Homo sapiens: one gene and its partners. The protein of the gene in region 3 interacts with the protein of the main gene of each other region in a pairwise test. Each region holds a gene or a part of one and is shown on either strand. Other genes may lie near its edges.

Region 1 (7,025 bases), on a different chromosome or scaffold from region 3:
ATTTAAAAGAGCTAGATGTATAAGAAAGCACTTATCGATGATAAAACTCTGTACAAAGTTAGATGGGATGTTGAGGATGATAACTGAATTGTTCTTTCAAAATTTAAGGGGTTTCTATTAGGATTTCAGTACTGGAAAATATTACCAGAGAAAAGAGTTCCTGGGCGTGAAATCTGAGTTAGCGTAGAGTCAGACTGCAGTCTCCATGCAGGTTGGTTCTCTCTTCAGCCTCTCTTCTGGCCTCTGCACCAAGCAGCCCTTCCTCTGGTTGCCCGCCTGTACAATGCCCGTAAATTAAATTTTACGCTGGTTATTCTTTAAATTCCACTAACCCATATCCATTCTCTGCCCTACTCTATGCCCTGGGAGCCTGACCTCTATGGACTACACAACCTCTATGGACTCCATTGCTCTCTGGCCTTGGTTGGGTTTGGAGAGTGGAAGGCATAGTAGGGGAGTGGAGAGTAGGAGGAGAAAAAGGCTGGGGTACTGATTCTCTCTGCTGCCTCTCTGCCCCACCCCTGATCTGTCAGGAACAGTGTTCCTCTGTGGCCACAGCTCCTGTCAGGCAGCCTTCTTCCATAGTGCTAGCTCTTGCTGGGCCCTGGTAACCTTGTTTCCTCCCCTTGCTGTTTCAGGTGTAGGGATGGTAATAGTTTCTTGCTGTTGGTAGTCCCTGGTGTTTCACTAGGCTTTGTTGGTTTTACTCGTAGGGCTTTTCCCTAGCCCTTGTTGGTTTCTTAACCCTTCTACATGTCAAGTAATAATTCCACTAAACTATCTTCAGGCAATCTTATTGAGGGTGCCATCTAGTTCCACCTGGGCTCCTGACTAATACAATTCTTTGTGTTTCCTCTCTATACTCTACATCCTCCAACAAATTAAGCAGAGGCACATTCTGTCCTGAGCTGGGCCACACAGTTAAGAATTAGTAGGCCAGGTGTGGTGGCTCACGCCTGTAATCCCAGCACTTTGGGAGGCTGAGGCAGGCAGATCATGAGGTCAGGAGTTCGAGACCAGCCTGACCAATATGGTGAAACCCCGTCTCTATGAAAAATACAAAAATTAGCTGGGCGCAGTGGCTCACGCCTGTAATCCCAGCACTCTGGGAGGCCGAGATGGGCGGATCACCAGAGGTCAGGAGTTCTAGATCAGCCTGACTAACATGGTGAAACCCCGTCTAAATATACAAAATTAGCTGGGTGTGGTGGCATGTGCCTGTAATTCCAGCTACTTGGGAGGCTGAGGCAGGAGAATTGCTTGAACCTGGGAGGCAGAGGTTGCAGTGAGCCAGGATTGCGCCACTGCACTCCAGCCTGGGCGACAGAGTGAGACTCAGTCTCCAAAAAAAAAAATATGAAAATTAGCCAGGTGTGGTGGTGTGTGCCTGTCATGCCAGCCGCTCGGAAGGCTGAGGCAAAAGAATCACTTGAACCCGGGAGGCGAGGTTGCAGTGAGCCAAGATCGCACCACTGCACTCCAGCCTGGGCGACAGAGGGAGACTCTGTCTTTAAAAAAAAAAAAAATTAGCACAAGCTCAGATTCCTTAGCCTAGCTTTTTAAACACACACACACACACACACACACACACACACACACACAGAGCTTTATTGATATATACCATAAAATTCACCCATTTTACGTGTACAATTAAATTATTTTTAGCAAATTTACAGAGTAGCGCAACCATTAGCACAATCAAGTTTCAGAACATTTCCATTACCCCAAAGAGATCCCTTGTATCCATGCGCAGTCATTTCCCATTCCTGTTCCAGCCCCAGCAACCACTTCCTGTTTCTACAAATTTGCCTTCTCAGGACAGTTCATACAGACAGCATCATGTGTGGTCCTTTGCATCTGACCTCTTTCACCTAGGGTGATTATTTTGAGATTCATCCATGTTGTTGCATGTATCAACAGTTCATTCCTCTTATTGCTGATTAGCATTCCATTGCCTGGATATACTACAATTTGTCTATCCATTTATCAGTTGATGGACATTTTGGTTGTTTCTATGTTTTGTGTATTTTAAATAATGCTGATATAAACATTTACGTACAAGTCTTTGTGGGTAGGTACTTAGAAGAGGAATTTCTGGGTCATGTAGTAACTCTATGTTTAACTTTTTAAGGAACTACCAAACTGTTTCCACAGAGGCTGCACCCTTTTACATTCCCATTGGCAATGTGTGAGGGTTTCATTTTCTCCATATCCTTCCCAACACTTTTTATTTTCTGTATTTGATTCTAGCCATCCTAGATGCAGTGATATTTCATTATAGCTTTGTTTTGCATTTACCTAATTACTATGTTAGTATCTATACATGTGCTTATTATTCATCTGAATATCTTTTTGGAGAAATGTCAATTCAGATCTTTTGCCCATTTTTAAATTGGAATGTTGTAACAGTTTTTTGTATGTATTCTAGATACAAGTCCTTTATCAGATATATGATTTGCAAAAGGAACTCAAGCACTCTCCTTCTTCCTTCTGCTATAGATTTATTTTGCCAGTTGTGCATTTGGAACAGAGGACATTAGGACTTCAGGAGGCTACTTCCACCTGGCTAATATATTCTATGACCTTAAAAAGTTGGACCTGGCAGACACATTGTACACCAAGGTGAGCTGGGGAATGTGGGAGCTGAGCCTTCACTCTTAGGCTTGGTGTCTTACAACTTGTATTAGACTATTCATGAAAAACATACCATTCATGAGAAAGAGAGGCACAGAGAGATGAAGTGGCTTGCCCAAGACTATATAGCCTGATACATGATATACTCCATTTTCTTTCTTCCAGTGTCTCCACTACCAAAATAGACTAACCCTTAACATCCGTAGGGTGATTAACGAATAATGAAGGACAGGTCAGTAAGAGCCAAACCCCTTCAGATAGACTGTTGTATGCTGTGTCATACCCATAGCAGCAAGCTAATGTGGGCTTATTGAAGTGTGCGATAGAGAAGGAGATTTCCAAGGGAAGTCTGTTGCTACAAGATCCTGTCAAGGGATCCAAGAACATGAGAAATTTCCATATTTACATGTAAAATATTTTAAACTGTTTCCAATATATTAAAATGTCAGCTGTATCCATATAGTAACACCTCACTTAGCAGGCAATCATTTGTGTAATAAATGTGTAATACAGGCTTTCTGCTGATTGTTGATTCATGTTTTAGACCTGCTTCTGAGAAAGAGGCATTTTGCTGTAGTTTAAAAGCTTTAGAATCAGATAGACCAGGGTTTAAATTCTGGCTATGCCACTTAACAGCTCTTACCAGAAGTCGTGTGTGATCTTCTCTGAGCCTCGGTTTATTTACATGTAAAATGGGAATAATAAGAATATTACATCAGGATGTTGTGAGGATGTGAAGGTTTCGTGTTGTGTGTGCTATACAAAAGATAACCACTGTTATTAGACCCCACTAGGGCTACCCCAAGATGAGCTGCCACAGGCCCTTTTCAGCCCATCACTTGTCACACTTACCTTGGCCAGGCCTGTTTGGGCTCCTAGGGTTCCCTCTGCCTCCAGGCACAGTAAGAGAGAGAACCTCCAGGTTGTCCAGAAGCCCGGCCAAATGCGCTACTCTCCTCACCTGCCTGGTCCGACGGCTGAGGTCTGGCCTGCTTGTTGTATTACCATCTCTTTTCCCAACAGGTCTCTGAGATCTGGCATGCATATTTGAACAATCACTATCAAGTCCTCTCACAGGCTCACATCCAACAAATGGATTTACTGGGCAAACTATTTGAGAATGACACTGGCTTGGGTAAGTGGCAGTTTTCCCTGAAGGGAGAGCAGTGACTTCATCTCACCCAATACACAGACCTTGTCCCTAAGAGGGAAAGCAGCTGTCCCTGTCATGAAGCACACCATTGCCACCTTCCCCATGTTGCTGATGGAGAAAACTGAGACACGGGGATCAAAGAGATTTTACCAGTGTTGGGAAGAATTCAGATCCCTATCATCACACATAGCCATTCGGGGGTTACTAAGGGACAGATTTAGAGGGAAAAAAAGACCACATCAAAGCCCCCTGTGATTTCTGCAGAGCATCCATTTCTATGTTATCCCTCCAGGGCAGCAGTCCCAATCTCTCCCTGGCACCAGGGACCCGTTTCATGGAAGACAATTTTTCCATGGACTGGGGGGCGTGGGAGGAATGGTTTCAGGAGAATTCAAGTGCATTACATTTATTGTGTACTATGTTTTTATTATTATTAATATATTGTAATATATAATGAAATAATTATACCATGCATCATAATGTAGAATCAGTGGGAGCCCTGAGCTTGTTTTCCTGCAACTAGATGGTCCCATCTGGGAGTGATGGGTGACAGTGACAGATCATCAGGCATTAGATTCTCATAAGGAGTGTACATCCTAGATCCTTTGCATGCACAGTTCACAATAGGGTTCACGCTCCTAAGAGAATCTGATGCTGCTGCTGAACTGACAGGAGGTGGAGCTCAGGTGGTAATGCAAGCAATGGGGAGTGGCTGTAAATACAGATGAAGCTTTACTCGCCCCTACCACCCCTGCTCACCACCTGCTGTGCAGCCCGATTCCTAACAGGCCACAAAACAGTTCTGGTCCATGGCCTGGGGGTTGGGGACTCTTGCTCCAGGACACGTAAGCCAAGGTAGACTCTACACAGAAGGTGCATTGCTGATTTCTTCTGGTGCCTTAACTTCATGCTTTACTGAACAGTGAGCTTCTCAGTGGCAGGGCCCAGTTGGATTAAACTGTATTCCCCGGGCCAGCAAAGGGCTAAGTGTTGAATAGTACCGTACAGCATCATGCCCTCAGAGACAATGAAAAGACACAGAGGATCTAGTTTCTGCTCAAAAGAGACATACAGTGCAGTTGGTGATATAGAACCTATAGGCAATAACAAAAGAACATTCCTGTGAGTACAAATTATGTTACAAGATGAGTCCCAGAATGAAGAGGTGAGGACAGCTGGGTGGTGTTGAAGAAGGAAGACTCTTTGGAGGAGAGGTTTTGAGCTAAAGTTTAAAAAATTAATAACTTTATTGAATTTTCTCTCATTATGTAAATAGTTCATGTTATAGCTGAAAACTTGGAAATCATAGATATCCAAAGATAGCCAACCTTAACATGATGGTGTATATCCTTTTCGTCTTTTTCTCTAAGCTTAGTACTTGTATAAGTGCTTTTAAATGCATGTAGTGACTTCTCAGTAAATGATGACTAAAGTAGGACCAAAAACTACTGGGGAAAATAGTAAACAGACTCTCAGAGGGAAGCATGAAGGTTGTTGCTTACGCATCTATGGCCTAGACGAGAAGAGTTAAGCTGCTGCAGCTGCAAGAAGTCCCTTCCCCCAGTTCTCTCCTCTCAGCTGTAGAGTGGAATCTGAGTTGGACCCAAGGAATCTGCCTGTGGCAGATTATCTGTGTTTGTAAGCCCAAGAGATCTAGAGTTCAGGACTCCGAAAGAGAGAAACCTTAGCAACTTTGGGACCTGTGGGAGTGAGCCTATTTTTAGGCTACTCTGATAATGGCATGCTAAGCAAAGCTGGAAAGCGGTCTGAAACTCCTGCTTCGGAGCTTCCTGCTTTGCACCTGGAGGGAGTCCTCTAGGTAAAAAACTTGCTGTAATTGGTGCTATTTCCACCAGTGCCCTTGGGAAGGCTTCAGCAGACCAGGCGCTTTAACAGCTGAGTGCTTTTGATGAGGGCAGACTCAGTTGCCAAGAGCCTGTTTTTTCTTTCTTCCCCTTCCAATGCAGATGAAGCCCAAGAAGCAGAAGCCATTCGCATCCTGACTTCAATCTTGAACATTCGAGAATCTACATCTGACAAAGCCCCCCAAAAAACCATCTTTGTTCTGAAGATCCTGGTCATGTTTTACTACCTGATGATGAATTCTTCAAAGGCAAGTTTCCCTAAAAAAGCAACACGTCTAAAATGAAGGTAGAAATTCAACTAGTTGAACTCAAAATTTGTGTTTTGCCCAATTCCAATAGCTTTTGCCCTCAGAGCAAGCCCTCACTCCAAAGAGGTTCAGATGCTCACGATGTTTCTCCTGTGTTGAGTCTAGCCTGCATAATGGAAATTGGATTGTCTTCTTCCCCCGAGGGTTCCCAGTCTTGCATAGATAAAGAGAGTCTGAGGCAGTGCTGGGAAGCCTGCAGGGCAGGAAGGCTCTGGGGAGCCTTGGATGGATGAAGTAGCCGCTCTAACTCCACTCAGTTACTGAGTTCCCTGTTGCTGCGGGGATTCAGGCAGAAATGCATTGCCATGAAATGATTCAAAAAGTAACTTTTTGAGTACTTTTACCTACCAGTTATTGGCCTAAACCCTTTACATAATTATCATACTTAATGCTTACACCAACATTAATGAGGTAGCTATTTTATTATCTCTACTTTACAAACAAGGAAACTGAGGCACCGAGAGGGTCAATTCTTTGCCCAATGTCTTACAGACAGCAAGTAGCATATCTCAGGTTTATTGACTTATTGGTTGATTCTCTCATTCATTCAAACATTTATTGAAAATCTACCATTTGTAAAGCACTAATCTAGGGACTGGGGATACAGTGGTGATCCATACGTTTCCTATCTCTATGGCACTGGTGTTTTTTGGAGGAGTGGAAATAAACATATGTATGTGTAATATAATTTCAGATAGTAGAAACTGTTATAAAGAAAACTAGCCAGGCACAGTGTCTCATGACTGTATTCCCAGTACTTTGGGAGGCTGAGGAGGGATGATTGCTTATGTCCCGGAGTTCAAGACCAGCCTGGGCAACATAATGAGACCCACTCTCTACTAAAAATAAAAATAAAAAGATCAGCCGGGCTAGAGGTGTGCACATGTAGTCCCAGCCACTCGGGAGGCTGAGATAAGAGGATTACTTGAGCCCAGGAGATTGAGGCTGCAGTGAGCCGTGCTTGTGCCTCTGCACTCTAGCCTGGGTGACAGAGCAAGATCCTGTCTCAAAAAAAAAAAAAAGAAAAAGAAAAAGAAAAGAAGAAGAAGAAGAAGAAAAAGCAGT
Region 2 (7,109 bases), on a different chromosome or scaffold from region 3:
GTGTTGACCCCAGAGCTGGAACCCTCAACCACAGTGGCATTCTGCTGTTCTTGTCCTGCCAGGCATGCAGTAGAGTCATCATTTTTAGACCCGGATCACAACCCTCCCACACAACCTTCACTGCCTATTGGACAAATTACAAAGAGACAATCTCTCCTCAATTCCTGGAAGCAAAGCCAAGTCTTCCTGTAGGGCATGCAGCAGGTGGGACTCACCCAGAGAGCTCCTCGACAACGCCAAAAACCCCTCCGTGGCCCAGCAAGCCGCCTCCTCCAAGCAGCCCTCCTGAGCCCAAGAGGCCCCGGTTCACAGCTGTGACCGATCCCAGCACATTCTGCAGAATGGGCTCCCCAACCAGTGAGTTCTGGATGGCTGCAGAGAGAGTGGAAGTAGGAAGGTACTAGAAACTCCAACCTCACCCCCAGGACCATGGCAGCTGCCTCCTTCCTCTGAGATTGAGTAGGCTTCTTTTTAAAAATGGAATTAACCCAGAGGTTACACTCAAATGGTGGAACCCACTAAGCCATAACAGCCTCTTACTCCCACCGCAGGGCCTGTGGCCACCCTCCCTGCCTGGCATGTGGGAGGTACCCAGTAAGTGTTTGGAGAATGAATGAGCAAATCTCATAACAATCCCTTCATTTTACCAGTGGGAAAACTGAGGCTCAGAGAGGGGCAGAGACGTGTCCAAAGTCACACAGCAAATTGGGTTGGGGTCAGTAGTGTAACTTGGCTCCTGATCCTGGACTGCCCTACAGCACTGAAAGGGAGGGCAAAGAAGGGGGAGCTTGTAGCCACCAGGGCTCAATCAAGTTGGAGGAGATGGTCTCTGCTTCTCTCCTGGGCACTCCAGGCCTGACTCTGTGCAGACTGTGGGAAGGGCAGGATGGAGGAATGGCCCTGTAGAGTAGAGGCAGGCCAGGGGGCCTCTCTGAAGCATTTCCTGCTCATGACCAATCTACTCTATCCCTGAGACTGTCACCACAGGCCACCGGGCTCTGTAGTACCAAATGCCAAGTACAGTTCCCTTACCCTAGTGATGTGAGGCAGAGACACTGGCCCAGCTAGCACCCTCCCCTCGACCTCTTCAACCTCACTCTGTCCCTGTCCCTGAGCCACACACAGTCCCCAAACAGCCTCAGCCCATATCACCCAGTCCACCTCCCGTAAGAGGGAATTCATCGCCCATTCAAGCCTGCAAGGGAAACTTTCACTCCTGCACAGCTACTCCCAGGAGAATGTGCTCTCTAAGCAGCTGAGAATCACAACCTGCTCTTATCTGCTCTTAAAGCAGATGCTCTAAGCATATAGATTGAGTCGTTGACATTGCAGCAGCCCCCTCACAGACTGCCCACCTGGGGCTCACCTTTGCCGAGTTCATCCTTGTCAATCCGAGCGAGCGTGCCCACCGTCTCTAGCAGCTCCTGGCATGGAGTCGCCAGGCCCCAGAGCAGAAGCAGGGACCACAGGGCCAGCATGACTGGCTGCATGCCTATAAGGAGCAGAAGGAGGAACTCTGAGACCCTTCTCCTGCTCAAGCCTTTCCCCTCTCTGTTCCCATTATCAGCCTTCCCCCTTCCTGCCCACCTGGCACAGCCCAAATTGAGCTTCACTCCCAGGAAAGCCTTCTCCTCCCAAATGTAAGCAGAGCTAACACGCAGGTGGCACGGTGCAGCTGCCAATGCACTCAAGTCTCCAAGGCACTTTCCAAGCCTCTCCCTCATTGGGTTCCATTTCTCAGCTGGGAAAACTGAGACCGAAAGGGGTAGGGGACTAGACCAAGGCCACAGAACTAATCAGAGACAGTCAGAATTCAAGCCTGAGTCCATCTGACATAAAAATCTTCATCCTCAGAGGCCCAGTGAGCCTGGCCGGGTGTCTGGAGTGACAGCTGCAGACAGAGGGGCTTCCCCCTCCAGGACAGCAGGATGAGAGCTTTGTTTCCAGCAGCTGCTTCCCACTGGCTCATGAGGCTGTTTCAGAAGGTCTAGCTGACTGGGGACACCCAACACTTAGACTTAACATGTCTTATCTTTCTCCTTCCCCCACCTCCACCCCAAATCTTGTTGAAAAAGGGAATGGGGTGGCAGGTGGGGGCATGGCTAATCTGCTAAGTTCACAGAGTGGGATTTTTCTTTAAGCAGTTCCGTATTTGCCCACCCAATCACATATCCATCTATGCCCACCCATCACTCCTGCTTAAACCCTTCAGTGGCTCCCCGCTGCCCTGGGTTGAAACCCAGGCTTCTTGCCATTACCCACAAAATCCCTGCCTGCCTTTTTGACCTCCTTGAGCTTAAACATGCCAGGCCCCTTCCCACCCCAGGGCCTTTGCACATGCGGTTCCTTGTTAGGAAGGCTCCTCCCTGCTTCTTTGCATGGCTGACTCCTTATCATTGAGATTCCGGATAAACATTGCCTCCCTGGAGAGGCCTCCGTCCTTCACTTTGTCTAAAGAAATCCGTCTGTCACTAAACATCACGCAGAATATTTACTTTAAGGTGCTGATCTCCATTTGCAATTATGCATCTGTTTGTGTCCTTATTTCTCTTCCCTGTAAACTCCATGAAGGCAGGGACCATGTCTAAGGCCTCTGTGCGTGGTTGTGTGTCAGAAGGGGTCCCTGCTGAGGGGGCAGGGGATAGAAATTCAGCAGCATGTCACTGGCCAGGAGAAAAATGGGCACTCCTGGAACTCTCTCCATAGGATCATCCTATGGACAGGGATCCCCTGCCCACCCCTCCGGCTGTGAATATATACAAGTCTTTGCCTCTCTCTGGGCCCCAGATCTGTAACATGGTTTTTCTCTTCATCCACCCTCTTGGTACCCCCAGTCTCCTCCTAGGGTGAGTTCTTTCCGTGCCCATCATTCATATGGGAGGGCAGAAGGCAGTGGGGTCAACGGCTGGGCGTCAGGACAAGAGCAGGGCTGCCTCAGGCTGTCTTACCCTTGCTCCTGCAGCTCCACAAGGGGTAGGTGGGGGCTCCCGGCCTCCTGTCGGTTCCTCCACCCACGCGAGCTGAGGGGTGGCCCTTATATGCCCACGCGGCTCTGAGGACACAAAGGGGCCACGGCCGCCAGAATCCCGTCAATATGTCATGTCAGAAGCAAATTGCGGTTTTCCCCGAGGGCCTGGGCTAAGCCTTCCTCCTTGGAGGCGAGTAAGGGGACTGGGGTCGGTGCCCAGGAGTGGGAGTGAAGGCGTGGGGGCTGCACAGGCAGCCACCTCCCTCAGAGCCAGGGGTGAGGTGTGGGGCCCTGCCACCTACCCATTCAGCCACCTATTGGGCTCCCTCCAAGGCTCCCCAAGAGCCATTCCAATGGCACAGAATCTACCCTGCCTACCCCACCCCTTCCCCAGCGAAGGCCTACGGAGGGAAAGAAGGGACTTAAAGCTGCTGGGTCTTCTACCTTCCGCCACCCTCCCCCCGCACCAGGCCTCACATGGAGAGGGCTATGGGCCTGGAGACAGGGACTCTGGGCACACTTGGGGGAGGGGCATCAACTCCACCCCCACCTCCCAAGGCTCAGTATCCCCAGAGTTCCAGAGCTTTGTCCCCTTTCCGAGGCTGGTGCAGATGACAGCGACGAGAAATGCGTCCATTCATTCACTCCACTGCAGGCATTTGTGAGGCACCCACTGTCTGCTAGATGCTGGGGAAATCGCTGTAAATAAAAGAGACAATCTCCCCTGCCCTGAAGGAGCCGACTAGTGGAAATGCAATGCAATTTAAAACTTTCTAGTAGCCACATTTTTTGAAAGGCAAAAAGAAACAGGTGAAATTAATTATAATAGTCTAGTTTATTTACCCCCACCAAATCCAAAATATTCTCATTTAACATATAACCAACAGAAAATTATGAATGGGGTACTTTACTTTCTTTTTCTCATACTAAGTTTTCAAAATCTGCTTACAGCACACCAAGATTTGGACTTGTCGCACTTCAGGCAATCGCCTTGTATGGCTATTGGCTGTCATATTGGAAAGCACAGCTCTGAAAGGGACAAATAAGCACATAATACAGTAAGTTGGGGCTGGGCGCGGTGGCTCACGCCTGTAAACCCAGCACTTTGGGAGGCCGAGGCAGGCAGATCACAAGGTCAGGAGTTCAAGACCAACCTGACCAACATGGTGAAACTCCGTCTCTACTAAAAATACAAAAATTAGCTGGGTGTGGTGGCAGGAGCCTGTAGTCCCAGCTATTTGGGAGGCTGAGAGAGGAGAATGGCGTGAACCCAGGAGGCGGAGCTTGCAGTGAGCTGAGATCACACTCCAGCCTGGGTGACAGTGAGGGACTCTGCCTCAAAAAAAATAAAAAAAAAATTATATATATATATATATATATATATATATATATATATACACACACACACACACACAAATTAGCCAGGCTTGGTGGCGCATGCTTGTAATCCCAGCTACTTGGGAAGCTGAGGCAGGAAAATCACTTGAACCTGGGAGATGAAGGTTGCAACGAGCCAAAATTGCCTCACTGCACTCCAGCCTGGGCGACAGAGTGAGACTCCATCTCAAAAAAAATACAGTAAGTCGGAAGCTAACAACAAAAATAAAGCAGGGAAGGGGCTCAGGAGTGTGGGGAGTGGGTGCCATTTTCAATAGCGTGGTCAGGGAAGGCCTCATATTGAAGCAGGGGTGACTTTTGACCAGAAGGAGAAGAGGGAAGGAGTCAGATGGCTGTCTGGGAAGAGCCTGCTGACCAGAGGGACCCCCACACAAAGGCCTAGGGTGGTGTTCCAGGAACAGCAGGGGGGCCATGTGATTGGAGGGGAGTGAGAGATAGGTGGTAAACAATGTGTGATGAAGCCCTGGAAGCTACTGTATGGATTTACAGACTTTGGCTTTCATTGGCAATTCCTCTGAAGGCACCAGCTCAGGCATCCCTTCCTCCAGGAAGCCTTCATGAGCCCCAAGCTGCATGAGGTATCACCTCTGAGCTCCCACAGTCCCCTGGGATTTCCTCTCTCAGAATCTGTGACATGCCAAGCTGTCACTGTGTCTGTGGCTCTGTGAGTCTGTGGGTCTGTCTCCTGCGTGGGGCCCTGAACCTCTGCCTGCTAAGATGGGGAAGAAGGATGGCATTTGCCTTGTTTACCTCAATCATCTCTAAAGCCCTCACCCTACAATGTTCATTCTGATGACTTTAGGCCCTGGACCAGGTTACTCAACCACACCACACTTTTTTAAAAGATAAACTTTTTACTAAAATCTAAACCATGTACACAAAAAGGGGCACAGATCACAAGTATACAGTGTGATGAATTTTTACAAATGGAGCCCTCTCAAAGCCCTCTTTGTGTCCCCTCCAAGTCACTGCCCTCCTGGTGGTGACCACTGTCCTGACCGCTAACTCAGTGCTGAGTCCAGCATGCTCCTGGGGGTCACTAAGTGCAACCGCTGTGTGCTTTATGTGCGTGGCTTCCCTGCTCCCATTGTGTGAGGCAGTGACTGGGTCTTCTTTGCTGTGTACTACTCAATTATGCGAATCCCTACAGTTTGCTTATCCATTTTCCTGTCCAGTGGTGCCTGGGCTTTCCAGGTGTTGGCTATTATGAATGAAGCTACTATGAACACTCTTGTTTGTGGACATTTTTTTTTCTTTGAGACAGAGTCTTGCTCTGTCACCCAGGCTGGAGTGCAGTGGTGTGATCTCAGCTCACTGCAACCTCTGCCTCCTGGGCTCAAGCAATTGTCCTGACTGAGCCTCCTGAGTAGCTGGGATTACAGGCACCTGCCACCACACCTGGCTAATTTTTGTATTTTTCATAGAGACGGAGTTTCACTATGTTGGCCAGGCTGGTCTCGAACTCGTGACCTCAAGTGATCCTCCCACCTCAGCCTCCCAAAGTGCTGGGAATACAGGCATGAGCCACCACCCAGCTTGGGCCTATGTTTTTATTCTTCATTTCTTTTGGGTAAATAACAAGGAGCTGAATTGCTGGAGCACAGCATGCATGCGCATGTTTAGCCATACTCTCTATGGCTATGGTTCCCCTGAGCATTATGCCATTGCACGTGGTCAATGCTGCTACTCCACAGCCTCATCTGTGCTGGGTATCCCCAGTGTTTTTAAGGCATTTGTTTGAAGGAAGAGGAAAGAAAACTAACACTAGTATTTATTCGGCACATACCGTGTACAAGGCACCTGCTGTATGTGAGCACATCTAGTCACCACAAAGACCCAGTGAGATCAGTGCTGTTATTATTTCCTCTTCTTACACTCAAGAAGCCAAGGCTCAGCAAGGGTAAGCAGCTTGCCGGATGTCACACAGGAGTCCAGCCAGACCGTCTAACACTCATTGTCTTAACCACTGCCCAGCCTAGCCTCTTGGAAGAGAGGAAAATGCTACCTAGTTGTTTCTGGCCTGCTTCGTCTCTCCTCCTCCTTCCCGATCCCCACCCAACAGGGGACTCTGACACACCCATAAGCTCCCCAGGCGTCCCCATATCCCCTCATGCACCAAAGCCAGGTCAGGGATTGGGCCTGCCCACGGGAAGGGATTCATTAAAATACATATCTCTTGGCCTCACCTTTGGCAACACTGATTCCACTGACAAGCACCTAGGGGGACGTTTAACAAGCCCCCAAGGCAATATGATGTGCAGCCCTTTTGATATCCCTGGTGAGGGTGATGGGAAGCCAAGGAAGGGATTAGAGCAGGGGAGGGACTTGATGAGGAGAAATACCCCTGGGCATTAGTTCCTAGAGTAAAGGCTCTGGAGCCAAAATTTCTGGGTCCACATTCTGGCTCTGTCACTCACAATTGAGTGACTTAACTCACAGAGCCACAGTTCTCCCATCTGCAAAATGGGCTCATATTAAAGGTGGCCCTCCTCACCTAATTGGTATGGCTGTGAGGACAGGTATCCTAGAAATGAAATTTAAGGCATCAAGGGAGGGGGGCCAAGGGTGCAGATGGTGGTGAGATCCCTGGGAGGCCTCCCCATGCTACTCGAGCTGAGAGTGGGCTGAGAAGGGAGAAGGCAAGGTAAGTGGGTACTGGTATGAACACAGGTGTGGGGAACATCGTGTGGCTTCATTTTCCCAGGGTGAGGCTGTCTGACAGGTCCCGGGGGGTCAATAGCTG
Region 3 (7,443 bases):
CTTCTCTCCGACCAAGCCCAACCCCGAGTACCCTGTGGTCTCCCAGCTGGGAAAGTGTGGACGGCAGTGTGTGGACCGCCGTGGGCACACCGTCCTCAACGAAGAGGGTCCTCTCCCCCGCGTCCGGCTGCTGCTGCTCCTCAGGCTTTTATTCCCTTACTTCTTGCTGCACTTTTTTGTCCCAATCCAACCTTTCCTCTCCCTCCCGCCACCCACCAGTGCCGGTCTCGCTGAGCACCCGTCTCTCAATCCCAGGATTTGTACGGGGATTCTGGGCAGCCTTTGAAGAGAGGCTGCCGCTCAGCTTTTCTGAGAGGTCGCCGCGCGAAGTCTTGAGCCCTCCGAACTGCAAGGACCTGCCCCTAGGGGCACGGGTCCGATTTTGATATTGAAGGGATGATTTTGTTGGAATCGTTTGCCTTAAATGAGTGGGTAGAGCAATGTCTCCATAAACGGGGAAGGGGACGTTTCCACCCCTCCCAACACTATCTAATAAAGACATCATTCGTCACAACTCTAAATTAAAGAAAGCCCGATCAAACCAGAGGGAGACTTCCACACTCCTCCCCTACCCCGTGGAGATTTTTTCTTTTTTCTGCAGTGTCGAACGCTCCATGAAGGGCTCACCAAATCGCCTAACCTCCCGGCTATCTCTCCCAGACGTATAATAAAATTAATAACCTAAAGTTATATATAAATAAGGACAATTTCGTTGCATTTTTCCCCGCAGGAGGTTGCCCTTTTTTCGTTGCCCAAGAGGAAAATGTTCAGGAAACTACTGTCTCAAACCAATCGATTTTAAAGATACAGTATCCTTTTCTCCGTGTAACGATTTATGCGGAAAATAAATCTCCAAGCTCAAGAGCAAATGAAAAGTTTCACCTCTGGTTCCTGCTTGAGGAACAAAGACCAACTGGGCTTGCCGCCTAGGGGAAAGTGGGGCCGTGGGTATGGGCGAGGGGGCATCTGGCCAGGCGTTGGGCACAATGGAGCAGGGGCGAGTGCTTTCAGCATTGGAGTCACCATTCGGGGGCCTTCTTAGATCCGTCAGGCCGGACAACCGTTCGGATTCGGTGGCCGGGAAATAAATAAGCCAATTCCTTTGGTGACTACCCCCCGCGGATTTCCAGACCCTTAGCTAAATCTAGCCACCCAGAAAGGGGAAAGGGGAAAAAGAAACAATCAACCCAGATGCCCCCGGGGAGGCCAGAGCAGGCATGCACTGGAATTGATACCTTGATGGTGGTTTCGGGCAGGTTGAGTGCCGCGGCCAGCTCGCACCGGCGGGGCCGCGACACATAGTTCTCCCGGTAGAACTCCTTCTCCAGGCGCGCGATCTGCTCGCGGGTGAACGCCGTACGGTAGCGCCGCACTTGATCCGCGCCAGAGCCGGAGCCACCCAGCGCCGCGCTCCCGCCGCTGCCTCCGCTGCCTCCATGCAGGCTTCCGAGGCCTGAGCCCGACGCCGACGTCGTGGTGCCGGCAGCCGAGCCGCTCTCTGCGTACCCTGGCAAACAAACGACCAACAGCGCATGAGTGGCTGTAGGACCAACAGCCCGGCGCTGGCGCTGCGCGCGGATCGGGGAAGCCCCGTCAGGAAGGAGAGTCGCTGCCGGAATTGATGGGGTCTGTCATGCTTACAAATTGCTGCCGTTAATGGAATCAATAAAGTTTGGGGAGCCCTTCATAAGCAAATAATAGAAACGGAATTAGGAGATTTCTTTTTTAATAATTAGAAATTTTCAACCAAGGAGGAAAAGTGGCCGAGGGAAAATGCCTACCTCTGGGCGCAGTTTGGGAAGCTCTGGGTTTCCCATGGTCTGGAGACCGCAGGGCAGCTTTTTATACGGCCTCTAACCTTTATCTGAGTCTTCGGGGTTTCAAATATTTTAAGAGTTCCAACACAGCAGTAGCTCAAACCCAAGCCAATAGGGGGTGAAATATACTTTTCAACTCTTTCTCCCGCTGACCTAAACAGAGACGCCGGCGAGGCTTCCTCCGACTTACCCAGAAGAATGCCCCCTCCAGCCCTGAGGGCACAGGGGCAGGGGAGTTCAGAGTAGTTGCCCAGGGTACCTTTCCCAAAAGCAACTCGGCTGCTGACTAGGGGTCTACCGGCTCGCTCGGGCTCTTAGACACGAGCGCAGAAACATTTTCTCGGACTCAGGAGCGAGGGCGGGTGGGCCTGGTGTTCCAGGCTCCGCAGGCCTGAGCCTGGCGGGAAAGCTCAAGGAGCAGAACTGGAAGGCACGGTCCCAGACATGCGTCCCGCCCCCGCCCGTGCTAGCTCGGTGTAGCTTGCCTGTGGAGGGTCTGAGAGGGGAAAAGGCACCGGGAAAGGCTGGCGGGGGCCGCGGAGGAGCAAAGAGGATGGGACTGGAGAGCGCGGTGCGGCCGGCGCGGTTACCTTTGCCATTGTTTTCCTTAAGCTGAGCGGCGCCGAGGCCCCCGGGGGAGCGAAGCGCGGAGCAGCCCACCTCCACGTCGCTGCTCATGTCGGCCTCAGCGGCCGCCTCTGAATAATGGCCCGGCTTCTTGCGGCTCTCGGCGGCGGAGGAGATTTCGGAGGAGACGGTGCTTTCGCTGCCCGTGTGCTGCAGGTTGAACAAAGTGTCTATTTCGAATTTGCCCTTGGCGGGGAGTTCTCCCAGAGCGCTGTGCAGGGGGGCAGACGGCAGGCGCGGGCTTAGGCGAGCCGGGTGCTGCGAATTTTCCAGGGCCTCGAGCACAGCATTGCCAGCCGAGTTGGACAAATTGGAGAATCTCTTGCCCGCCGTAGGGCTGTGCAGCCCTCTCTCCATCAGAATCATCTCTTTTCTTATTCTTTCCATCATCTCAGCTTTCTTAAAAATGTCACAGTGGCCCTGCTGTCCCGTCCTAATGATAGGCTGCGCCTAGGGCTAATTCTCATTCAGCCCCAGCGAACGCCTCTAAATATTATTATCGCTTTCGGAGGGAGGCGGAAAAATTGTGGGATGCCAGAGCGAGGGAATGACTGGTCAAAATGACCCATACATCCTTCCGATCCCGAGATGTCATTCATCAAAAAGTAGCGCCCGCTCGTCATTAAGGTACGAATGACGCTGTTCGAATAATCATTTATTGTAACAGGTTTATAAGCAAATAAATACACCCTCCTGTCAGTGGGTAATGAAGGCAGCTTCAGAGCAGACAAATAGATCCAGGTAGGAGGCGAGAAGAGACAAGTGAGGAGGAAGGCTCCGGTCCTTTGCCCGCTCCGAGCCAGTTCTGCTCGCCCGGGGGTTTGGCCTCGGGGGTGAAATTGACAGTCTGATTAATAGAGCGCGCCGCGGCACATTTCCCCCTTCATTTAGGGGCATCATTACGCTCTCAGTTTGCTAGGTTGCCCCTTAGGTCCTAATCATGCAGCGCCTTCTTCATTTTTCCTTGGACACAGATACGTATTAAATAATAGATAATGGTTTGACTTTCCAGAGTAGGTCCTCGGGAAGGTTTGGTTTTTTTTTTTTTTTTTTTTTTTTTTTTTACCATTTACAAGCTGGGGGCATAAGTGGGGGGAGATAAGGGGGAGGATGCAGGAAGAGTTGCGTAAGGAGAAGACCTTGCGCCTCTCCTATCTGGATTACTTATCTTTCGGATTTCGGAACCAAATATGTATTTTATTTAACAAATAGGACGCCGGAGTTCTTTCCCTCCCTATTTCTTCACCTCAGCCTAAATGCTCTCCTCCCACCCCGGGAGAGAGAGAGAGCGGAAGAGAGGGAGAGAGGGAGAGAGGGAGAAAGGGAGAGGGAGACGGAGTGAGAGAAAGAGAGAGAGAGAGAGAGAGAGAAATAGAAATATCCTAGAGTTTTGAAAGCGCTTTCTTGCTACGTGGCCGCGGAGGTGCATTGGGCCCGCGCCTCCAAACGGAAATCATTAGGTCCTCTCTGATTTTCTAACACCGTCTGCAGAGTGAGATCTGAACTCGAAGTCCCCGGTTTTTTACTTTTATAATCCTGCTGATAGAAAGCCTTCTCGCCTACGCATTTTCCTGAGGGGAAACGAACTAGGCTGGACGATTTGATAGCAGAATTCGACAGCTAACTTTAAACACAGTGGAGATTTACAGCGCCATACGGGCGCTCCGAATCCACGCTCACGTTGCCAGATTTTCCCCTCCCTCCTCAAATAGAATTATTTGCGGCAAAGGCGCTGGATTTCGAGGTCAAAAGAGGAAAGAGGAGACAGCCTTCTTCCCCTACCTCCCCGCTGCCCTCCCTTCCCCTTTGCTTTTCTTCCTTCTCTCTTTCCTCCCCTCATCAACCCCAGCCCCTTACCTGCGGCCACAGGTATTCCCAGCGTTGGGTCCGGGCGCAGAGAGTCGCCGAACAGCCTTACAGCAGCTCTCTGCGGCCTGGGCTTGGAGGCTGAGCCTCTTGGCGACAACTTTGATAGTCATAATGACGCCGGTGGCAACCATTTTAACGAAGATCAATCTTCACTCCAGGCCGCTCCTCATCTCCCGCGGTTGCGCCCACCCTTCCCTGACCCTCCAAGCACTGTGCCCACCCGCCAACGGCCCAGCCGGAGAGAGATTCGCGGACACAGGCGGAGGCGAGGGAGGACGGGGATGGGACGCGGAGGTCCGCCCGTGAGCTTCTGAAGCGGCTGAGAGACCCTGACAATCTGGGCGCTGGGCGCGGGTCCTGCATCCCCACATTTAGCCTCAATCCGAACCCCAACCAGGGCCCCCTCTTCTTTCTGCCGACACACCCAGAACATTGGGGTGTGTTAGGGGGCAAGCTCGAGATCTATTCGCCTATAGCTCTTGGCGCTTTCCTTTTAACCTTAGACCCGTTGGGGGCGCATCAGGAATGTAAGGGGAAGCGAGGTGTGAAGTATATTTATATACATATATACACACATATAGTCAATGCCAAAAGTTTATCTTCTGTTCCCCTCGGCGCCAACTTATTTCAACAACGCGAGCTTTGCTTAGAAAATCAATTCCACATCTTTAAGGTAATAAACGGAAAGCTCGATAGGCAGGCGGTGCCTGGGGGAACGGGGAACCGGCGGGGAACGCAGAGTGGGCATCCAGCGCACCGGGACTGGGACTTGACCCAGCGTCCACCTCTGCCCCTGCCCCATTGGCCACCCAGCTCCGAGCTCCCTGAGTTCTCATTGCGCCGGCTTTGGGGCCATCAGCGCGGTGGGAGTCCAGCCCTGCCAACGCCCCCACCTGCTCCCTCCCTGCTCCGCAGCCCGGATGCCCAATTCTGCCATGCCTGGCAGTCGCTGCTCCTGTGACCCAGGAAGGGTCCCCCTACCCAGTCCTCGCTTGCTCCAGGGACTGAATGGGACACCTTGGTTCAGGCTCGGGTCGTGCTGGGGTGGTGGGGGTGGGAAGTGGTGCGAGACCCTGGCGGGAGTGTGGGTGAACCGAGGCACTGCTTGGGTGGAAATCCGTGGATGCCTTTATTGCTGTCGTTTGGCGCCCCCATCTGTTTTCCTCGCGGTTTCGGCTGCTGTGAGTTGGTTTTCAAGTCGGAGACGCAGTCACTGGGGACTAAGGTGAGGACTGACGACCCCTTCCTCTATCACTCAGCCCGAGGCTCTCCCACATCTTCCCTTCCTCTGGGACCCGACGCCTCTGGTCCCAAAGGCTGCGCCAAACCGGACCTCAGTCTGTCGAAAGGGAAAACACTATTTCTCAGCAGCACCTTCATTCATTAGTGGCTTTGAAAACTATTTTTGCACCTTTTAAATGACACTGATAGTGCATTTCTAGCACGTTTATTACAAAAAACATGTCAGAGACATGTCAGCGAAACTACTCACAGTAAAAGACACCTATAATGTTTCCACTAAACTGGGTGTAGCAGGCAATAATGTTTCATGAGGTACAGTGACCATTCCATTCCAATATTTAATGTCCCTTAATTTATTTAGAGATTCCACGCCCACTAGTAGTAATATTGGCTAACTTATACAAAACTCTTACTTTGCAATTCCAAGTGCTTTTTACATGTTATCTCAGCTAAGGTTCACAGTAACTCTGTGAGATTTAAACTATTATCCCTTTTCCAGAGATTATGAGCCAGAGGGGTTCAGGGACTTGTGATTTAAACTTATCTCCGATGATAAAGTCAAAAGTGTTGTTTAAAGCCTTGGGCAGCATTTTTTAGGTTAATTCTCTCATTTTGCATATGCCTTATGTAAATACAGGCCTACCTCAAAAACATTGAACCTATATAGAGGGTAGTAAGAAGAGTGCAGTTCTGTTGATTTGTGTGTGTATTTTGTTGTAGTTGTTGTTGGTGGTGGTTTTTGTTTGTTTTGTTTGTTTGTTTGTCTGTTTGTTTTTGAGACAGAGTCTCACACCGTTGCCCAGGCTGGAGTGCAATGGCAAGATCTCAGCTCACCGCAACCTCCGCCTCCCGGGTTCAAGCGATTTTCCTGCCTCAGCCTCCTGAGCAGCTGGGATTACAGGCATACGCCACCACGCCCGGCTAATTTTTGTAGTTTTAGTAGAGACAGGATTTCACCAAGTTGGCCGGGCTGGTCTCGAACTCCTACCTCAGGTGATCCGCCTGTCTCGACCTTCCAAAGTGCTGGGATTATAGGCGTGAGCCACTGCGCCCCTCCCTGTTGATGCTTTTTGATGAAATACCCAAACTTGCACGTCTCCCAGAATGTGAAGGCCAAGGCTGGGAACAGGCCTGTCAAATGTTCCGGGTGGTTTGATGCAGCCTCTGTGACCGTCAAGGCCTCTTACCCACTACCAAGGTACAGAACCCACTAGATAAAACAAGTCAAGAATCCAACCCAAGCCCGCATGCTTTGGCAGAAATTTTTAAGATGGGGTGGGGAGTACAGGAAGGACTTCCTTCGCATGGACTGAAAAGCCCTTTTTGTTCTAAAGGAGTAATGACTTTGAAGAGGCCTAATTTTTTGGTTAGGTTTCCAGACTAAATATTTGTTTCTTGAGCAGCAGCGGGTCCTCTGAGGTGAAGTGGTAAACACTTTTGGCCTATGACTGCAGGTAATAAAAATCTGTCCGGGCTGCCCGAGGGGAGGGGCGCCGGTAAAGCCGTAGCTGCAGCGAAGCCCCGCGTCTGCCGCTGCCGGAGCCTGGCTCTCCTCTTACGCGGGGGGCTGCGGGCAATTGGGGCCGACAACTTGCGGTCCCGCCTTGGGACGCATGCTTGCTCGAGAGCTGGGGCTGCAGGGTGCAGTGGGACAGTAGGACCGCGAAAGCCTGGGCTTCGAGCCTCGGGCTCCCTGTCTTCAGGCGAAGTGCGGTTTCCACGGGTGCAGGTTTCGCTGCATAAGGGAAGACTCAGATTTCGAGCCCTCGGCAGGCCAGCTTCTAGCTCTCTGTCCCTTCCGGGTCTCTCCGGTTGCTTCTGTCTTTCCTCCTCCCACTCCCGTCGCAATCCCGCGCCCCACGGAGGAAGGTCGTGGTGCGGGAGTTGG
Region 4 (7,025 bases), on a different chromosome or scaffold from region 3:
CAGGAAAATAAGAGGGGACCTGATTTAGATTGGCTTTCACTGTTCTTCTTGGTTCTACTTTTTTTTTTTTTTTTTTGGTCCAGATTTACGATGACTATTTCATTCACTACTTTGCCCCCAGAGGCCTTCCACCTATGGAGAAGAATGTGGTTTTTGTTATTGACGTAAGCAGCTCCATGTTTGGTACCAAGATGGAACAGGTAACAAGGATCCTGGAAACCTTTCTTAGTCCTAGTATCAGAAGACCCAGAAAGCAGAGAGCGTGGTAACAATGGGGCCCTGGGAGAAGAGATTCCACCATCCCATGACCCTTGAGTCTTACAGGCTTGGGCCTACCCTAGGGTCCTGGTATCTTACCTAACAGGAGCCTGTGGACCTGGAGCCACAGAGTCCTAAGAACATTGACACATTGGTCACTGTGAAACCATTGAGACCCTCAACCACGAAAGCCCAGGGTCATATAGGACCCTCAAGCTAGAGCACCCTGGGATCCTAGAATCCAAAAGCAAGAAAACCTTAGGTGAGAAAGACTCTGAGTCTTCCTGAGGCCACAAGGTTTTGGGTCTTTGTAATTTTTTTTTTTTTTACTTTAAAGGCCTAATAGTATAGAGTACTAGCATTATAGAATTAGAAACCATAGAGTCAGGAGTCATATCGATTTTAATCTTGTTGCACTTCTACCACTGTGCCCATGGGTCAGAGTTCTGAGGCCGTAGACCAAGCAGGCTTTGACTTTAGTCCCTGAATCCATAAAGTTCTGCAGGCAGCATTTCATACCATAATACCCTGGAGCTTTTTGTACCGGTGTCTTGCAGTTGTATAGCTTTGCTCCTTAATCTTTCAATCACAGAGCCTTTGGGACCTAAGGCTGAGTTTGTTTTACCAGAGTTGAGCAACCTGGGGAAAAATGGGTAATACCCCAAGCCAGCTCCCCAGCCCCAGTGTAGGGGGAGGGATCTCCCCAAATCCAGCCCTTTCTAGCCTTCTTGTCTCACTGAGGAGGGGTAAAAATCTCAGAAGTCCTTGTGAAGTTTCTATCTCAGGGACACCAATTCACTAAAAGATTGAGACCTCCTCATAAGAGTATAGAATGCTTCCTCTCACTCCACACATTATCACCACATCAACTGGGCTCCTCGGCAATAACGGAAAGTTACAGCTGATAGAACTACAAGCCCAAACCCTATTGAAGAAAATGTTCCTAGGGAAAACCAAAGACAACAGAAGCAACAAAAATACAGACACTAGAAGGGGAGCTGAGGTAGGTGGATCACTTGAGCCCAGGAGTTTGAGACCAGCCTGGGCAACATGGCAAAACCCTGTCTCTACTAAAAATACAAAAATTAGCCAGGTGTGGTGGTGCGCACCTGTAGTCCCAGCTACTCAGGAGGCTGCATTTGGAAAATGGCTTGAGCCCAGCGAGTGGAGCTTGCAGTGAACCAAGATCACACCACTGCTCTCAAGCTGGGGCAACACAGCAAGACCCTGTCAAAAAAATAGTAGTTTTAGCCTCTGACAACTAAAACTGCCCCAAACAAGAAACATTACCTAACTCATAGCCAGATAAACTTAAAACCCCACACTAAATGCCTTTTAGTTTATTTCCTTTTACCTGATACATCACGTCTGGCTTTCAACCTAAAATGAGAAGGCATGCTAAAAGGAGAAAAACACTGTCTGAAGAGAGTAAACAAACATCACAGCCAGACTTCAATATGTCAGATATGTCGAAATTATCAAACAATTTTATTTTTGATTGAAATTTTTTTTCCAACTTTTATTTTAGGTTCAGTGGATACATGAGCAGGTTTGTTACATGGGTAAATTTAGTATTGCAGGTTTTTGGTGTACAGATTATTTTGTCACCCAGGTAATAAGCACAGTATGTAATACATCATTTTTCAATCTTCACTCTTCTCCGAACTTCCACCCTCAAGTAGGCCCCAGTGTCTCTTGTCCCCTTCTTTGTGTACATGTGTGTTCAATGTTTAGCTCCCACTGATAAGTGAGAATATGTAGCATTGGTTTTCTGCTCTTGCATTAATTCACTTAGGATGATTGCCTCCAGTTCCCATCCCTGTTCCTGCAAAGGACAGGATTTCATTCTTTTTTATGGCTGCATAGTATTTCATGGTGTATATGTACCACATTTTCTTTATCCAGTCCACTATTGATGAGCATTTAGGTTGATTCCATGTCTTTGCTATTGTGAATTGTGCTGCAATGAACATACATGTGCATGAGTCTTTATGGTAGAACGACTTACATTCCTTTGGGTATATACCCAGTAATGAGTTTGCTGGGTCAAACGGTATTTCTGTTTTTAGATCTTTGAGGAATTGCCACACTGTCTTCCACAATGGTTGTACTAATTTACACTCCCACCAACAGTGTATAAGCGTTCCCTTTTCTCCACAACCTTGCCAGCATCTGTTGTTGTTGTTTTTTTTTAACTATTTAATAATAGCCATTCTGACTGGTGTAAGATGGTATCTCATTGTGGTTTTGATTTCCATTTCTCTAATGATCAGTGATGTTAAGCATTTTTTTCGTATGCTTGTTGTCTACATGTATGTCTTCTTTTCAGAAGTATCTGTTCATGTCCTTTGCCAATTTTTTAATGGGTCAAACCAAGAATTTAAAAACCCATGATTAATATGCTGTGGGCACTAATGGATAGAGTGCACCACATATAAGGACAACACATGGTAATGTAAGCAGAGACATGAAAACCCTAGGAAAATAAAAAGGAAATGCTGGATATCAGAAATACTGCAACAGGAATGAAGAATCCCTTTGATTCACTCATCAGTAGACTGGACATGGTTGGGTAAAGAACCAATGAGCTTGAAGATACGTTCATAGAAATTCCTGAAGCTAAAAAACAAAAATAAAAAGAATTTTAAGAAACACCCTAGAATATCCAAGAATTGTGGAACAATTTTAAAAGTGTTACATATGCATCATGGAAATAATAGAAGGAGAAGAAAGAGAGAAAGGAACAGAAGAAATACTTGAAGTAATAATAGATACAAATTTTCCAAAATAAATTATGCACACCAAACCTCAGGTCTAAGAAGCTTAGGAGAACACAAAGCAGGATAAATACTAAACAATCTACACCTAGGCATATCATATTCAGACAGCAGAAAAATCTTTTAAAAAGCCAGAGGAAAATGTACCTTACCTATAGAGGAGCAAGGATATAAACTATATCAGACTTTTCTTCAGAAACCATGGGAGCAAGAAGAAAGTGGAGTGAAATATTACAAGTGTTAAAGGAAAAAACCCACCAGCCTAGAATTCTGTATACATCAAAATTATTCTTCCAAAGTGAAAAAAAAATAAAGACTTTCTCAAACAAACAAAAATTTTGGGAATTGTCACCAATAAACCTGCTTTGCAAGAAATGTTAAAAGAAGTTCTACATAGAGGAAGAAAATGGTATATCTCAGATACTTGGATCTACATAAAGAAAGGAAAAGTGTTGGAGAAGGAATAAATGAAGGTAAAATAAAATAGTTTTCTTATTAACTGACCTAACAGATAATATTTTTTCAAAATAACAATGTATTTAGTGAATGTAGCTTAGGAATAAGTGAAATTAATGAGAGTAATATTGTATAGGATGGGAGGGAATAATTGGGAATACTCTGTTACAAGGTACTTGCACTATGCATAAAGCTGTATAGTGTTATTTGAAAGTGGATTTGGATTGGTTGTAAATGTATACTGCAAACTCTAAGGGAACTGCTAAAATTTTTTAAGTCTAATGCGTATGCTAAGAGATAAGATAAAACGGGATCATGTAAAATGCCCAGTTAAAACTAGAGAAGCCAAAAAATAAGTGGAAGACATAAGAGTAAAGAATTTTAAGGGGAGGAGCCAAGATGGCCGAATAGGAACAGCTCCGGTCTACAGCTCCCAGCGTGAGCGACGCATAAGACGGGTGATTTCTGCATTTCCATCTGAGGTACCGGGTTCATCTCACTAGGGAGTGCCAGACAGTGGGCGCAGGCCAGTGGGTGCGCGCACCATGCGCGAGCCGAAGCAGGGCGAGGCATTGCCTCACCTGGGAAGCGCAAGGGGACAGGGAGTTCCCTTTCCGAGTCAAAGAAAGGGGTGAGGGACGCACCTGAAAAATCGGGTCACTCCCACCCGAATATTGCGCTTTTCAGACCGGCTTAAAAAACGGCGCACCATGAGACTATATCCCACACCTGGCTCGGAGGGTCCTACGCCCACGGAATCTCGCTGATTGCTAGCACAGCAGTCTGAGATCAAACTGCAAGGCGGCAGCAAGGCTGGGGGAGGGGCGCCCGCCATTGCCCAGGCTTGCTTAGGTAAACAAAGCAGCCGGGAAGCTCGAACTGGGTGGAGCCCACCACAGCTCAAGGAGGCCTGCCTGCCTCTGTAGGCTCCACCTCTGGGGGCAGGGCACAGACAAACAAAAAGACAGCAGTAACCTCTGCAGACTTAAATGTCCCTGTCTGACAGCTTTGAAGAGAGCAGTGGTTCTCCCAGCACGCAGCTGGAGATCTGAGAACGGGCAGACTGCCTCCTCAAGTGGGTCCCTGACCCCTGACCCCCGAGCAGCCTAACTGGGAGGCACCCCCCAGCAGGGGCACACTGACACCTCACACGGCAGGGCATTCCAACAGACCTGCAGCTGAGGGTCCTGTCTGTTAGAAGGAAAACTAACAAACAGAAAGGACATCCACACTGAAAACCCATCTGTACATCACCATCATCAAAGACCAAAAGTAGATAAAACCACAAAGATGGGGAAAAAACAGAACAGAAAAACTGGAAATTCTAAAACGCAGAGTGCCTCTCCTCCTCCAAAGGAACGCAGTTCCTCACCAGCAACGGAACAAAGCTGGATGGAGAATGATTTTGACGAGCTGAGAGAAGAAGGCTTCAGACGATCAAATTACTCTGAGCTACGGGAGGACATTCAAACCAAAGGCAAAGAAGTTGAAAACTTTGAAAAAAATTTAGAAGAATGTATAACTAGAATAACCAATACAGAGAAGTGCTTAAAGGAGCTGATGGAGCTGAAAACCAAGGCTCGAGAACTACGTGAAGAATGCAGAAGCCTCAGGAGCCGATGCGATCAACTGGAAGAAAGGGTATCAGCAATGGAAGATGAAATGAATGAAATGAAGCGAGAAGGGAAGTTTAGAGACAAAAGAATAAAAAGAAATGAGCAAAGCCTCCAAGAAATATGGGACTATGTGAAAAGACCAAATCTACGTCTGATTGGTGTACCTGAAAGTGGTGGGGAGAATGGAATCAAGTTGGAAAACACTCTGCAGGATATTATCCAGGAGAACTTCCCCAATCTAGCAAGGCAGGACAACGTTCAGATTCAGGAAATACAGAGAACACCACAAAGATACTCCTCGAGAAGAGCAACTCCAAGACACATAATTGTCAGACTCACCAAAGTTGAAATGAAGGAAAAAATGTTAAGGGCAGCCAGAGAGAAAGGTCGGGTTACCCTCAAAGGGAAGCCCATCAGACTAACAGCGGATCTCTCGGCAGAAACCCTACAAGCCAGAAGAGAGTGGGGGCCAATATTCAACATTCTTAAAGAAAAGAATTTTCAACCCAGAATTTCATATCCAGCCAAACTAAGCTTCATATAAAATACTTTACAGACAAGCAAATGCTGACCGATTTTGTCACCACCAGGCCTGCCCTAAAAGAGCTCCTGAAGGAAGCACTAAACATGGAAAGGAACAACCGGTACCAGCCGCTGCAAAATCATGCCAAAATGTAAAGACCATCGAGACTAGGAAGAAACTGCATCAACTAACGAGCAAAATCACCAGCTAACATCATAATGACAGGATCAAATTCACACATAACAATATTAACTTTAAATGCAAATGGACTAAATTCTCCAATTAAAAGACACAGACTGGCAAGTTGGATAAAGAGTCAAGACCCATCAGTGTGCTGTATTCAGGAAACCCATCTCACGTGCAGAGACACACATAGGCTCAAAATAAAAGGATGGAGGAAGATCTACCAAGCAAATGGAAAACAAAAAAAGGCAGGGGTTGCAATCCTAGTCTCTGATAAAACAGACTTTAAACCAACAAAGATCAAAAGAGACAAAGAAGGCCATTACATAATGGTAAAGGGATCAATTCAACAAGAGGAGCTAACTATCCTAAATATATATGCACCCAATACAGGAGCACCCAGATTCATAAAGCATGTCCTGAGTGACCTACAAAGAGACTTAGACTCCCACACATTAATAATGGGAGATTTTAACACCCCACTGTCAACATTAGACAGATCAATGAGACAGAAAGTCAACAAGGATACCCAGGAATTGAACTCAGCTCTGCACCAAGCGGACCTAATAGACATCTACAGAACTCTCCACCCCAAATCAACAGAATATACATTTTTTTCAGCACCACACCACACCTATTCCAAAATTGACCACATAGTTGGAAGTAAAGCTCTCCTCAGCAAATGTAAAAGAACAGAAATTATAACAAACTATCTATCAGACCACAGTGCAATCAAACTAGAACTCAGGATTAAGAATCTCACTCAAAGCCGCTCAACTACATGGAAACTGAACAACCTGCTCCTGAATGACTACTGGGTGCATAACGAAATGAAGGCAGAAATAAAGATGTTCTTTGAAACCAACGAGAACAAAGACACAACATACCAGAATCTCTGGGACGCATTCAAAGCAGTGTGTAGAGGGAAATTTATAGCACTAAATGCCCACAAGAGAAAGCAGGAAAGATCCAAAATGGACACCCTAACATCACAATTAAAAGAACTAGAAAAGCAAGAGCAAACACATTCAAAAGCTAGCAGAAGGCAAGAAATAACTAAAATCAGAGCAGAACTGAAGGAAATAGAGACACAAAAAAACCCTTCAAAAAATCAATGAATCCAGGAGCTGGTTTTTTGAAAGGATCAACAAAACTGATAGACCGCTAGCAAGACTAATAAAGAAAAAAAGAGAGAAGAATCAAATAGACACA

Evidence for each region.
Region 1: the proteins of EVX2 (region 3) and ZMYND12 interact in binary tests that used the Homo sapiens proteins (3 or more experiments, as listed by UniProt).
Region 2: the proteins of EVX2 (region 3) and BPIFB3 interact in binary tests that used the Homo sapiens proteins (3 or more experiments, as listed by UniProt).
Region 4: the proteins of EVX2 (region 3) and ITIH6 interact in binary tests that used the Homo sapiens proteins (3 or more experiments, as listed by UniProt).

Annotation. Positions count from the first base shown.
Region 1 is NC_000001.11:42,432,018-42,439,042, reverse strand, and holds part of ZMYND12 (zinc finger MYND domain-containing protein 12), read left to right. Parts: intron 1-2,499; coding exon 2,500-2,622; intron 2,623-3,657; coding exon 3,658-3,769; intron 3,770-5,754; coding exon 5,755-5,900; intron 5,901-7,025. UniProt on the Homo sapiens protein: Required for sperm flagellum function and male fertility.
Region 2 is NC_000020.11:33,049,805-33,056,913, reverse strand, and holds the start of BPIFB3 (BPI fold-containing family B member 3 precursor), read right to left. Parts: upstream 3,012-7,109; 5' UTR 2,949-3,011; intron 1,584-2,948; exon of another isoform or gene 1,493-1,583; 5' UTR 1,479-1,492; coding exon 1,367-1,478; intron 373-1,366; coding exon 216-372; intron 1-215.
Region 3 is NC_000002.12:176,080,943-176,088,385, forward strand, and holds the start of EVX2 (homeobox even-skipped homolog protein 2), read right to left. Parts: upstream 3,021-7,443; 5' UTR 2,835-3,020; coding exon 2,408-2,834; intron 1,508-2,407; coding exon 1,236-1,507; intron 1-1,235.
Region 4 is NC_000023.11:54,767,256-54,774,280, reverse strand, and holds part of ITIH6 (inter-alpha-trypsin inhibitor heavy chain H6 precursor), read left to right. Parts: intron 1-83; coding exon 84-200; intron 201-7,025.